Linked DNA regions of Homo sapiens. The protein of the gene in region 3 purifies or fractionates together with the protein of the main gene of each other region. This does not show direct contact. Each region holds a gene or a part of one and is shown on either strand. Other genes may lie near its edges. The genes, in order: ROCK1, ZNF3 and LONP1.

Region 1 (3,649 bases), on a different chromosome or scaffold from region 3:
ATTCATGTCTTTTTAAACTTCTCCAAATGTCTTACAATTTTCTTGGTGGAGGTCGTATACATCTTTCAGTAGATTGTTTTTAAATTTATATGGGAATGCAACCAGGCGCGGTGGCTCATGCCTGTAATCCCAGCACTTTGGGAGGCCAAGGTGGGTGTGGATCACCTGAGGTCAGGAGTTCAAGACCAGGCTGGCCAACATGGTGAAACCCTGTCTCTACTAAAAATACAAAAATTAGCTGGGCATGGTGGTGGGCACCTGTAATCCCAGCTACTCGGGAGTCTGAGGCAGGAGGATCACTTGAACCTGGGAGGCGGAGGTTGCAGTGAGCCGAGATCGCGCCACTGCACTCCAGCCTGGGCAACAAGAGCGAAACTTCGTTTCAAAACAAAAATAAAAAATTATATGGAAATGCAAAAGGCCAAGAATAGCCAAGCCAATTGGGAGGGATTACAAAGTTGGACTTCTACTACAGATATAAAATCTTATTATAAAGTTACAGTAATTAAAAGTGTGATATTGGCAAGGACACAGAAATAACACCAATGGATTGTTCACCTGAATTACGATGCAGGAAAGAAGTATTTTCAATGAATACTGCAGTATCAACTGAATATCCATATGGGAGAAATACTGCTTGATCTCTACCTCACTCTGAATTCCAGATTGATTATAGAACTGTGAAAGTTAACTATGAATTACAAACTCAAGTAACTATGAGTTTGTCATTTAAGTTCTTTTACTTATTTTTTTTACTTTAAATGAAGGGTGAATGGGTTAATTTAAGCTGAAACCCCAAATGACAGGTCATGAGTGAACCTGTGAATAATGACAGTGGCTATGTTTTCTTTGTTGCCCAAAGCTGGAGTTCCTGATCTCAGAGAAGCTTACAGGTGTGGGTGCATGGGCTAACTCAATGCTGAACCTTCATTCCACACTCCTAGTGTGTCCTCCTGTAACAAATTAGAGAGAAAGCTAGAGGCTATATTTCTCAGACTTTCTTGCAGCTAGGGGTCTGGATGTGATTTAATTTTGGCCACGTAGATGCACCTAGAGAAGGCAGACGTGAGATGCAGGCTGTGCTAAATGCCAGCAAGCAGGGTCATGGAAGTGCCTTTTCTGAGGCAGTGTGCAGACATGAGGTTCTTAAGTGGCAAGAGGAATGGTACAAAACATCTAACTGGAGGTAGATTGTAGCAAGCCTGACAAGTGTTGCAGAGAACCAGCAGTGGTAGTGTGGATTCCTGATTATGGCACTATCTGGACCCTCTCAATATTGGTATACTTGGGAGTGAGTGGTTTCCTGAACTTAGAAGAGGAAGCAGCTCTCCTGGTTGACCCAGTTCTGTAATGTGGCATTGGGAGTGATTCCTCAAAGCTCTCTCAGTTCTCAACAATTCTAAGTTCAGATTAGTATGTCATTTGGAAAGTCTTCTCTTGCTTAAACTAATTAGAATTAACTCTGTTCTCTGCAACTGGACCTTAAAATATTAGGTAATGGTGATGAGTCTGAGAAGGTAGTAAGGACACCGTCAGGAACTGTGCTGAGATTTTATCCTGTTTGCATGCTGCCAGTCACAGTTTCATGGATCCTGACAAAAGAGATGAGACCCCTGGGTCAGAGTCAGATGACTTCATTCACAGCACAGCAAAAGCAGCATAAGTTTCACGTTCCATCAGTTCCCTTTGCCCTCCAAGCCCCATGTGGGCAATGCAGAGTGGCCCAGGTGGGTGCTGAGCACACAGTGGGTTTGCATCATAGGTGGGAGACGTTATCTTTATTATACTGGACAGTAAAAGAACCCGACATCCTCACAAGGGAGAACTCTATCTTCCAAGGCTGTTTACTACATAAATATCCTTGGAAAAGATAGTCAAAAGAAAGGTTGTCAGAGCCTCTGCTTCCCTGATGTGTAGAAATGCAAGAGACCCATGGAGAATTGTTTTCCAACACACTTTAGCCAGCTTTTCATGTGAACTATTCCCACTCTTGTTTTAGAGCCCAAGACCACGTTTTATCTTTTAAAAATACACTTTAATCTAACCATGGAATTTCACAAACATTTATATACAATCAGAGACTAATTTGAAGTATGTTTTCCATTCATTTCAGCCATGAGAAAACACATTGCAGTAAAAATTAAAGATACCCATCCATAAATTACTTTTATTTCTCATTAAATGAGCACAGAGTCATTAGTATATTAATAACAGATATGTTTATTATTACATATCCATCAGTGCGGCTTTCAATACCACTTGAAACATGCATATCATCCTAGAGACGATCGGTTTTCCAGTGCTTCTTATCTGATACACATTACTGCAAAGCCATTATAAATTACTGAGGAGGTATTTGGTTAAAAAAATAAACAATAAATCATACTGTCCATATGAATCAACTCTTGTTACTGGACAAGAGTTTAACAGTATTTATCTGGTAATTCCTATGTTAACTGGAAAACATCATGGATGTATTGCCATATTTCCTTTTTATGTTGGTGCAACCTTCTACATTTTTTGCAGTTTTATAAAGTCATTATTGTAGCAGGTAGTTTGATGCAAAGATTGTACTCAATTTATGAAAGTCCAACAAACCTCTAAATATTTTAAATTAAACCAATTATCAATGAAAAACTCACTGACACACATAATTTTTTGAAAATACATTTTTTGAAATTTCTATACTTACTCATGGCAGTAAAATAATTATCTCAAATTAAGGCACTAAAAGGACAATGCAACCCCCATTGAAAGTGTTCTAAGAATAATTTACATTTCAAACAGTGCATACATTTCTTATATGTTTGTTAACTTAATGTCTTTATCATTTAAAACCACAAAGAAATACATTATACAATTATAGAAATGATGTACCCCACAAAATGCTTTTAAACTTGGTTCTTTTGTACAGTTAGTTTCCTAATGTCTCTAGTAGTAAAATAACTCAATATGGCTTGGCAAAAATGCATAGATTAAATGTAACTTTTTTTTGTCCTCTCCCATTCCCCAAACTTGCTGAAACATATACAGTATTTTGTAAAGCATAATGAAAGATATTTAATTTCTCCATCAAGTCCAACATGGGCAATCAACAGTAAGGCTTTTAAATTCTACAGTGAGGGCACTGAAGTTCAAGTGATATCACTGCTTTCTTAAAATAGTTTTGTATAGTCTTGCAAGAGCACAAAAACTTAAGTCATTAAAAAAAAAACAAAACTTCAGTTTGTCTCATTTTGAGATATTTTCTTTACTCCTTCCATGAGCTGATCTTGATAGTGATGGCTGTTCCACTTGAAAGTGAAAGTCCCTTCCTCTTACTCATATGAGGAAAACTCTGTTCTATCACGACTGACAGGCATTTTCTTATAAATCCAAAAAGGCAGCACCTTTTAAAAAAAATATATCTACCTAAGCTTTCCCCCAACTGTACTTGCATTACATAGTAATAATTAATCTAATCTACCTGTAGGCAAACCCGCAATAAAAAAAACCCTCAGTGTGTTGTGCCAAAGCAAGGACAGAAAAACAGCAATCTTAACCCTGAAGCCTGTGATATTTGTGTCAAAGAAACAGCCTGTCTGCTCTGCATGGTTAAAGAAGCCTGGTTTATCAGGTAGCATCCCACACGATTCCACAGGGCACTCAG
Region 2 (3,649 bases), on a different chromosome or scaffold from region 3:
GTGAGAACACATTCCCGTAATTCTCCAGCATCACATCTCTATAGAGGTCCCTCTGAGCAGGTTCCAAACGCTTCCACTCCTTCCGGATGAAGTACACAGCTACATCCTCAAAGGTTACCAGCTCCTGAAACAACACGTGCTGGCATGCAATTTCAGGGTGAGGAATGTGAATGGCGGCACCAAAAAAATCACTGAGGATGGGGTGAAAAATGCACATTTGGGAAGGGAGGAAGGGAGGACAGGGTGGAGGAAGAGAGACAGGAGTCCAAGATAGAAGGTGAGGGTCCATGATTCAGCAGGACAGAACCATGGGCCTGATGGAGGAGATCAGGGTTTAAAGCTCTGAATGGGATGTCATTGCACAGAAAATGGAAAGGAAAAGGATAAACGGAACCACAGCTCACCTGGGACTTGGCCTTTAGGAGCGCAGCCGCCAACATCTCATCCCCCAGGCTGTCCTTGTCGGAAAAGGCAGGAACTTTTGAAGGAAGAGCTGAAGGGCAATAAAAGGGCCCAGGAATGAGTCCATCTGCTCTGTGACCTCCCAACCTGCTGACTTCCCAACCCACAGAAAGCTCCCGGGGTCCTGGGACAACACAGGACCCTCTCTCTCACATTTCTAAGTTTGCTTCCTCTGCAGCTAGCTACAGTGTGTCCAACAAAGGCAAACTCAGAGCGAGTCCATCCTGCCTGAGCAGATGGCCACAGGCCTGGTCATTCTTAGTCTCCAGTCTGTCCCAGGTCCCCTCTTCTCTCCAGTCACTCTTCTCTCAATGAAACCGCCCAGTCCTATCTTAGTGATTACTGCATTCTTGTCCATTCACCCAAGCTTGGCCAGAAACATATGATCCCGCTCTTGCATGAAGTTCTATTTTTTTTTTTTTTGAGGTGGGTTTTGCTATGTTGCCCAGGCTGGTCTCAAACTCCTGGGCTCAAGTGATCCTCCTGCCTCAGCCTCCCAAATAGCTGGGATTACAGTCGTGTGCCACTGCACCCAGCATGAAGTTCTTAGACCAGAGAAAAACCAGCAGCTTCACCCCAGCCCTGACTGGAAACACAATGCCCACAGCTCCTTTCTCTCCACCCCAGATCAAATCTGTACACTAAAAATGTTCCCTGTTTCTGTGTTGAATCTCTTACCTTTTTCTGCAATTCTTTTTTTTTTTTCTTTTTGAGGTGGCGTCTCACTCTGTCACCCAGGCTGGAGTGCAGTGGCGTGATCTCGGCTCACTGCAACCTCCACCTCCCGGGTTCAAGCAATTCTCCTGCCTCAGCCTCTGGAGGAGCTGGGACTACAGGTGCGTGCCACCATGCCCGGCTAATTTTTTGTATTTTTAGTAGAGATGCGGTTTCACTGTGTTGGCCAAGATGGTCTCAATTTCCTGACCTTGTGATCTGCCCGCCTCAGCCTCCCTAAGTGCTGGGATTACAGAAGTGAGCCACCGCGCTCGGCCGCAAAGTATACTTTAGTGGCTTCCTATTCACTCTGTCTTTTTGTCTATGACCCATAAAATGATTCCGAAGCGCCTCCTCTAAAAGCATGCTCCTAAAAAGCACAAACTATGCCTATGAAGTCGGCTGCATAGAATGCCCGAGAAATGGAATGATTGACACGGTTTCATTAATCTCGCGTGAGGTACTCACAACCCCTCAAAACTGCCTCAGTGGCCAGGCGCGGTGGGTCATGCCTGTAATTTCAACACTTTGGGAGGCCAAGGTGGGCACTGAGGTCAGGAGTTTAAGACCAGCCTGACCAACATGGCAAAACCCCGTCTCTACAAAAATTAGCCGGGCATGGTGACGGGCGCCTGCAGTCCCAGCTACATGGGAGGCTGAGGCAGGAGAATCACTTGAACCCAGGAGGCGGAGGTTGCAGTGAGCCGAGATTGTGCCACTGCACTCTAGCCTGAGCAACAGAGCAAGACTCCATCTCAAAAAAAACAAAACAAAACAAAACAATCTGCCTCAATTATCAAACCTATCAAGCTGTCATTGATTACTGTTCGGTCAGCTTCCCCACTAGGCTGTGAGTTACTGAATGGCGAAGAGTGTGTCTTATTCACATCTGGATTCTAGTAGTTAGCCTAGTACCTGGTAAGTGAGCGATTTCAATGGATGATTGCAGAATGACTGAGTAAAAGAATGAATGAGTCCTTATTCCTCACCACTGTCAAGCAGGGCCTGAGGTTCCTGAGATACGAGATCAGCCTGAGTTTCCATGGAAGGGCAAGGTGCTCTCTGGTCTCCTGGGTGCAGACTCAGCGGGAAGCGGGTTTTAAAAGAGAATGAGGAAGCACTGCAGAAGCAAAAGTTCAAGGTTCAAAGATAATTCAAAAAAACCTCCTGAATACAGAAAGATGGGAGCTAGTATTTCAGTGAGTACCCAGGAACAGTGAGAAGAAATGTGGCAACTGGGACTAGTCTTTTATTTTCTTTTATTTTTTAATTTTTTTTTTCCTTTTTGTGGAGAACAGGGTCTCGCTATATTGCCCAGGCAGGTCTGGAACTCCTGGGCTCAAGCTATCCTCCCACCTGTTGCCTCCCTGAGAGCTGGGATTACAGGCGTGAGCCACCGCGCCCGGTATTTTTAAATTTTCTTTATTTTTTTTAAGACGGAATTTCACTCTTGTCACCCAGGCTGGAGTGCAATGGCGCAATCTCATCTCACTGCCACCTCTGCCTCCCGGGTTCAAGCGATTCTCCTGCCTTAGCCTCCCAAGTAGCTGGGATTACAGGCACGCACCACCATGCCTGGCTAATTTTTGTATTTTTAGTAGAGGTGGGATTTCACCATGTCAGCCAGGCTGGTCTCAAACTCCTGATCTCAGGTGATCCGCCCACCCCAGCCTCCCCAAGTGCTAGGATTACAGGTGTGAGCCACCATGCCCAGCCTCAGACTAGTCTTTTAGATCCTGGTAAATATACTCCCTGAAATGAGACTATCACAAGGACCACAAAAAGGGCCCAAGTTCCTCAACAATATCCCGCCTTTGGCTGCCCCCATCACTTTGAGTAATATTTATAACAAAATGCAGGAGCGGGTATATACATTCACTGGCATAAAAAGACTACTCCCAGGCTGGGCACGGTGGCTCATGCCTGTAATCCCAGCACTTTGGGAGGCTGAGGCAGGCAAATCACGAGGTCAGGAGTTCGAGACCAGCCTGGCCAGGATGATGAAACCCCATCTCTACTAAAAATACAAAAAATTAGCTGGGCATGGTGGTGTGTGCCTGTAATCCCAGCTACTCAGGAAGCTGAAGCAGGAGAATCACTTGATCCCAGGAGGTGGAGGTTGCAGTGAGCCGAGATCACGCCACTGCACTCCAGTCTGGGCAATAGACAGAGACTCTGCCTCAAAAAAAAAAAAAAAGAAAAAGAAAAGAAAAAATACAAAAATTAGCTGGGCATGGTGTTACATGCGCCTGTAATCCCAGCTACTTGGGAGGCTGAGGCAGGAGAATCGCTTGAACCCGGGAGGCAGAGGTGGCAGTGACCCAAGATCGCACCATTGTACTCCAGCCTGGGCAACAGTGAGACTCTGTCTCAAACAAAACAAAACAAAACAAAACAAACCAACCAACCCTGGATTTGATCTACCTCTCATTATCTCTTTACTCATTTGCTCACATAGCAAATGTTTGCTGAG
Region 3 (3,649 bases):
CAATAAAAAAAAAAAAAAAAATTAGCTGGGCGTGGCAGCGGACACCTGTAGTTCCAGCTACTCGGGAGGCTGAGGCAGGAGAATGGCATGAACCCGAGAGGCGGAGCTTGCAGTGAGCCGAGATCGTGCCACTGCACTCCAGCCTGGGCAACAGAGTGAGACTCCATCTCAAAAAAAAAAAAAAAAAAAAATTTACAAACTGCCCTGTCCAAAGCACCCAGTGCAGGAAGGAGGAGATGGCCGGAGGTCCACTGCTGACTCATCAGGAGAGCCAAGACGGCACTGGCTTCTGCCCAGGGCTGAGTGAGCAGAACCACAGAGGGGACGAGGCTTAGAAAATGGGACAAGGCCTGACCCAGGGCAGGTGGGGAAATGGAGGCCAGGTCCCCTGCCGGGAGAGTGACGCTGAAGGTTGGGAGGGCAACTCCATATTGGTCCCCAAGTTGGGAGCCGTGCAGCAGTGAGCAGCGGCCACTATGGGCCAGGAGCAAGTCAGTGAGGGCTGCAAGAGCACACGGCAGGATTGGGGAAGAGGATGAAGAGGAGGACGGCTTCCGAGGAAGGGCCAGGCGGCCCCACGAGCAGACACCGTCAGGGCGCACTGCCACCCAACGGGCATACGAGACGCACCGGGACAGGCCAGCTGGGCCACACGGATGCTGGAGTTTAGAGACACATGAAGTCACTGTGGAAGTGACACAGGCAGTGACACTTTGCGGAGAGCATTCTGGGTGGGAGAGGTAGCTGGCAGCCTGCTGCAGGCATCTTGGTGACACGCAGGTACTGAGGGCTTGTCCCCCGTGACTTCCCAGGACCTGAGGACAGAACCCGCCTTACAGACCCCCTCAGCTCCTGGGGGAAGGAGCTATCTGCTTCTGCAGGACAAGGCCCGGTCTGAGCAGGTACTTCCACCAGCCCAAGGGCAGCTGAGGCACTCGCTGGGAGACAGAAGAACCCCGAAAACATCTACGTTCTCCCCCCACAGGAGGCGGCGGCACAGGCCTCTCACATGGCAGCAGGGAACTGCAGATGGGGCTGAGTGAAGGTCCCCGAGACAGGAGAGCATTCTGGGTGACCCAGGGGGCCCAGGTTCCTCACCAGGTCCTCACGACAGGCGGTGGGAGGTGAGAGACTGACTGGAAGAGGCTGCGCTGTGGCTGTGAAGGAGGAAGGGGCCCCGAGCCGAGGGATGCGGGCGCCTCCAGATACTGGGAAAGGCAGGAAACGGATTCTCCTCTGGAGCCTCTGGGAGGGACGGGCCCGGCCCACAGCGGGATCTCAGGGCTCGGCATTGTGTAAGGCACTAAGTTGTGGCACCGTCGGAGCAGCCATGGGAGCTCACAGGCCACTCACCGAAATCGGGGCGTGCTGGGAGGGGAAGCCACAGCCTTCGCGCGCAACCAGTGCCTCTCAGGGCCCTGGGGGAGAGACTCCGGCGACCGTGACATTCAAATCTGAGGCGGGGTCCTGGGCCAGCAGCCAGGAAAGAAACTCATGCCTTCCCTCTAAGCGCTGTCCTACGGCCTGCCCAGCCCTGCCCCGGGGACTTCTGCCTAGAAGCTGCCCTGGCGTGACAACTGGTTCCTGGGCTGAAAACAGAGCATGCTGCATGGGAAGTGGCCAGGTGGGTTCTGTCCTGGCTGGACATGGGCATGGCTGAAAGGATCTCAGAGGTACCTGAGGCCCTCAAACCTGGGGCGGCCACCCTGACTCATGGCATGCTCAGGACAGTGGCCCCCGGGCAAGGCCAGTGCTGCGGGAAGGCATGGTCACTTCCTGGCTGACTCTCGAAGGGGCAACAGAAGCCAGGGGTAGCCTTGCAAAGACAGCCATGGGGACTCCTGGTCCTGGCGAGAAGGCCTGGCTTAGGCCAGGCGTGGTGGCTCATGCCTGTAATCCCAGCACTTTGGGAGGGCAAGGTGGGCGGATCCCTTGAGGTCAGGAGTTTGAGACCAACCTGGCCAACATGGCAAAACCCCATCTCTACTAAAAATACTAAAAATTAGCTGGGTGTGGTGGCACATGCCTGTAATCCCAGCTACTCAGGAAGTTGAGGCAGTAGAATCGTTTCAACCTGGGAGGTGGAGGTTGCAGTGAACCAACATTGCACCACTGTACTCCAGCCTGGACAACAGAGCAAGACTCTGTCTTAAAAAAAAAAAAAAGCCAGGCATGGTGGCTCGCGCCTGTAATCCTAGCACTTTGGCAGGTCAAGGCAGCCGGATCATTTGAGGTCAGGAGTTCGAGACCAGCCTGAACAACATGGTGAAACCCCATGTCTCCTAAAAATACAAAAAATTAACCAGGCGTGGTGGTGCATGCCTATAGTCCCAGATACTTGGGGGACTGAAGCAGGAGAATTGCTTGAACCCGCAAAGCGGAAGTTGCAGTGAGCCAAGATTGTGCCACTGCACTCCAGTCTGGACAACTGAGCGAGACTCCATTTCAAAAAAAAAAAAAAAAAAAAGCAGCCCTGGCTTAGAGCCAGGCGTCCCTGGGCTCAAATCCGTGGCACCACCTGCCAATTCACAGGCCCTGGCCACCAGCTCAACAGCCCCGAGCCTCGATTTCCTTGTAGAATGGAGATGGTGATGATGTGTCCTGCCCAGAACAGGGCTGATACTCGCTGGATGCCTCCCAGCCCGCACCTGCCACACCAAGAAGGTGCCACGGGGCTCCCCGCTGGGTCCCCTGGCCTGCCTAAGATGGGGGCTGAGGAGGGGTCACCTGAGGGCTGGGCCGCCCCGGGCCTGGCACTCACTTGAACTCCGAGGAGTGGTTGTCCAGCAGGCCCAGCTTGCTCAGCTCCTCGTCCACAACATCCATGACGTGCTTGGGGACCACGAGCTCCTTCAGGCGCTCCCGGAACTTCTCCTCGATGGCATCCTTGTCGTCCTTCTCCAGGCCCAGCTCCTTCTTGATGATCTTTAGCTGCTCCTGCAGCAGGTACTTACGGTGGGTCTGCTTGATCTTCTCCTCCACCTGTGGGGTGAGGTGCTGCCATCAGGCCCTGGCTCCGGGAAGCTGGGTGGGTGGGTGCGTCCCCAGACGAAGGGGGACCCTCTGCTCCCCCAGGACTCAGAGAGAAAAGAAACGAAACCCAGAGCACGAAGCCTTTGGTTCCTTCCATCTTCTTTTGTTTTTGAGACAGGGTCTACCTGTGTTACCCAGGCTGGAGTGCAAAGGCACCATCATAGCTCACCGTAGCCTCCACCTCCTGGGCTCAAGCGATCCTCCTGCCTTAGCCTCCTGAGTAACTGGGACCACAGGCACCTGCCACACCTGGCTCTAATTTTAAAATTTTTTGTAGAGATGGGGCCAGGCGCGGTGGCTCACGCCTGTAATCCTAGCACTTTGGGAGGCTGAAGCGGGCGGATCACTTGAGGCCAGGAGTTCAAGACCAGCCTGGCCAACATGGTGAAACCCTGTCTCTACTAAAATACAAAAATTAGCCGGTGTGGTATTGCACGCCTGTAATCCCAGCTACTCGGGAGGCTGAGGTGGGAGGATCACTTGAGCCCTGGAGGTGGAGGCTGTAGTGAGCTGAGATTGCGCCATTGCACTCCAGCCTAGGTGGCCGACTGAGACCCTGTCTTAAAGTAAAAAATTCTGAAAAATGCTACGACCGTGAGGTGACCGGCCATCAGGC

Evidence for each region.
Region 1: the proteins of LONP1 (region 3) and ROCK1 fractionate together in Homo sapiens (co-fractionation; one large-scale study listed by BioGRID). This does not show direct contact.
Region 2: the proteins of LONP1 (region 3) and ZNF3 purify together in Homo sapiens (co-immunoprecipitation; one large-scale study listed by IntAct). This does not show direct contact.

The regions. Positions count from the first base shown.
Region 1 is NC_000018.10:20,947,727-20,951,375, forward strand, and holds part of ROCK1 (rho-associated protein kinase 1), read right to left. Parts: 3' UTR 1-3,649. UniProt on the Homo sapiens protein: Protein kinase which is a key regulator of the actin cytoskeleton and cell polarity.
Region 2 is NC_000007.14:100,075,138-100,078,786, forward strand, and holds part of ZNF3 (zinc finger protein 3), read right to left. Parts: intron 2,297-3,649; 5' UTR 2,221-2,296; coding exon 2,166-2,220; exon of another isoform or gene 2,092-2,165; intron 2,086-2,091; exon of another isoform or gene 1,141-2,085; intron 494-1,140; coding exon 405-493; exon of another isoform or gene 290-404; coding exon of another isoform or gene 125-289; coding exon 1-124. UniProt on the Homo sapiens protein: Involved in cell differentiation and/or proliferation.
Region 3 is NC_000019.10:5,703,011-5,706,659, forward strand, and holds part of LONP1 (lon protease homolog, mitochondrial isoform 1 precursor), read right to left. Parts: intron 2,983-3,649; coding exon 2,762-2,982; intron 1,209-2,761; coding exon of another isoform or gene 1,106-1,208; exon of another isoform or gene 721-1,105; intron 1-720. UniProt on the Homo sapiens protein: ATP-dependent serine protease that mediates the selective degradation of misfolded, unassembled or oxidatively damaged polypeptides as well as certain short-lived regulatory proteins in the mitochondrial matrix.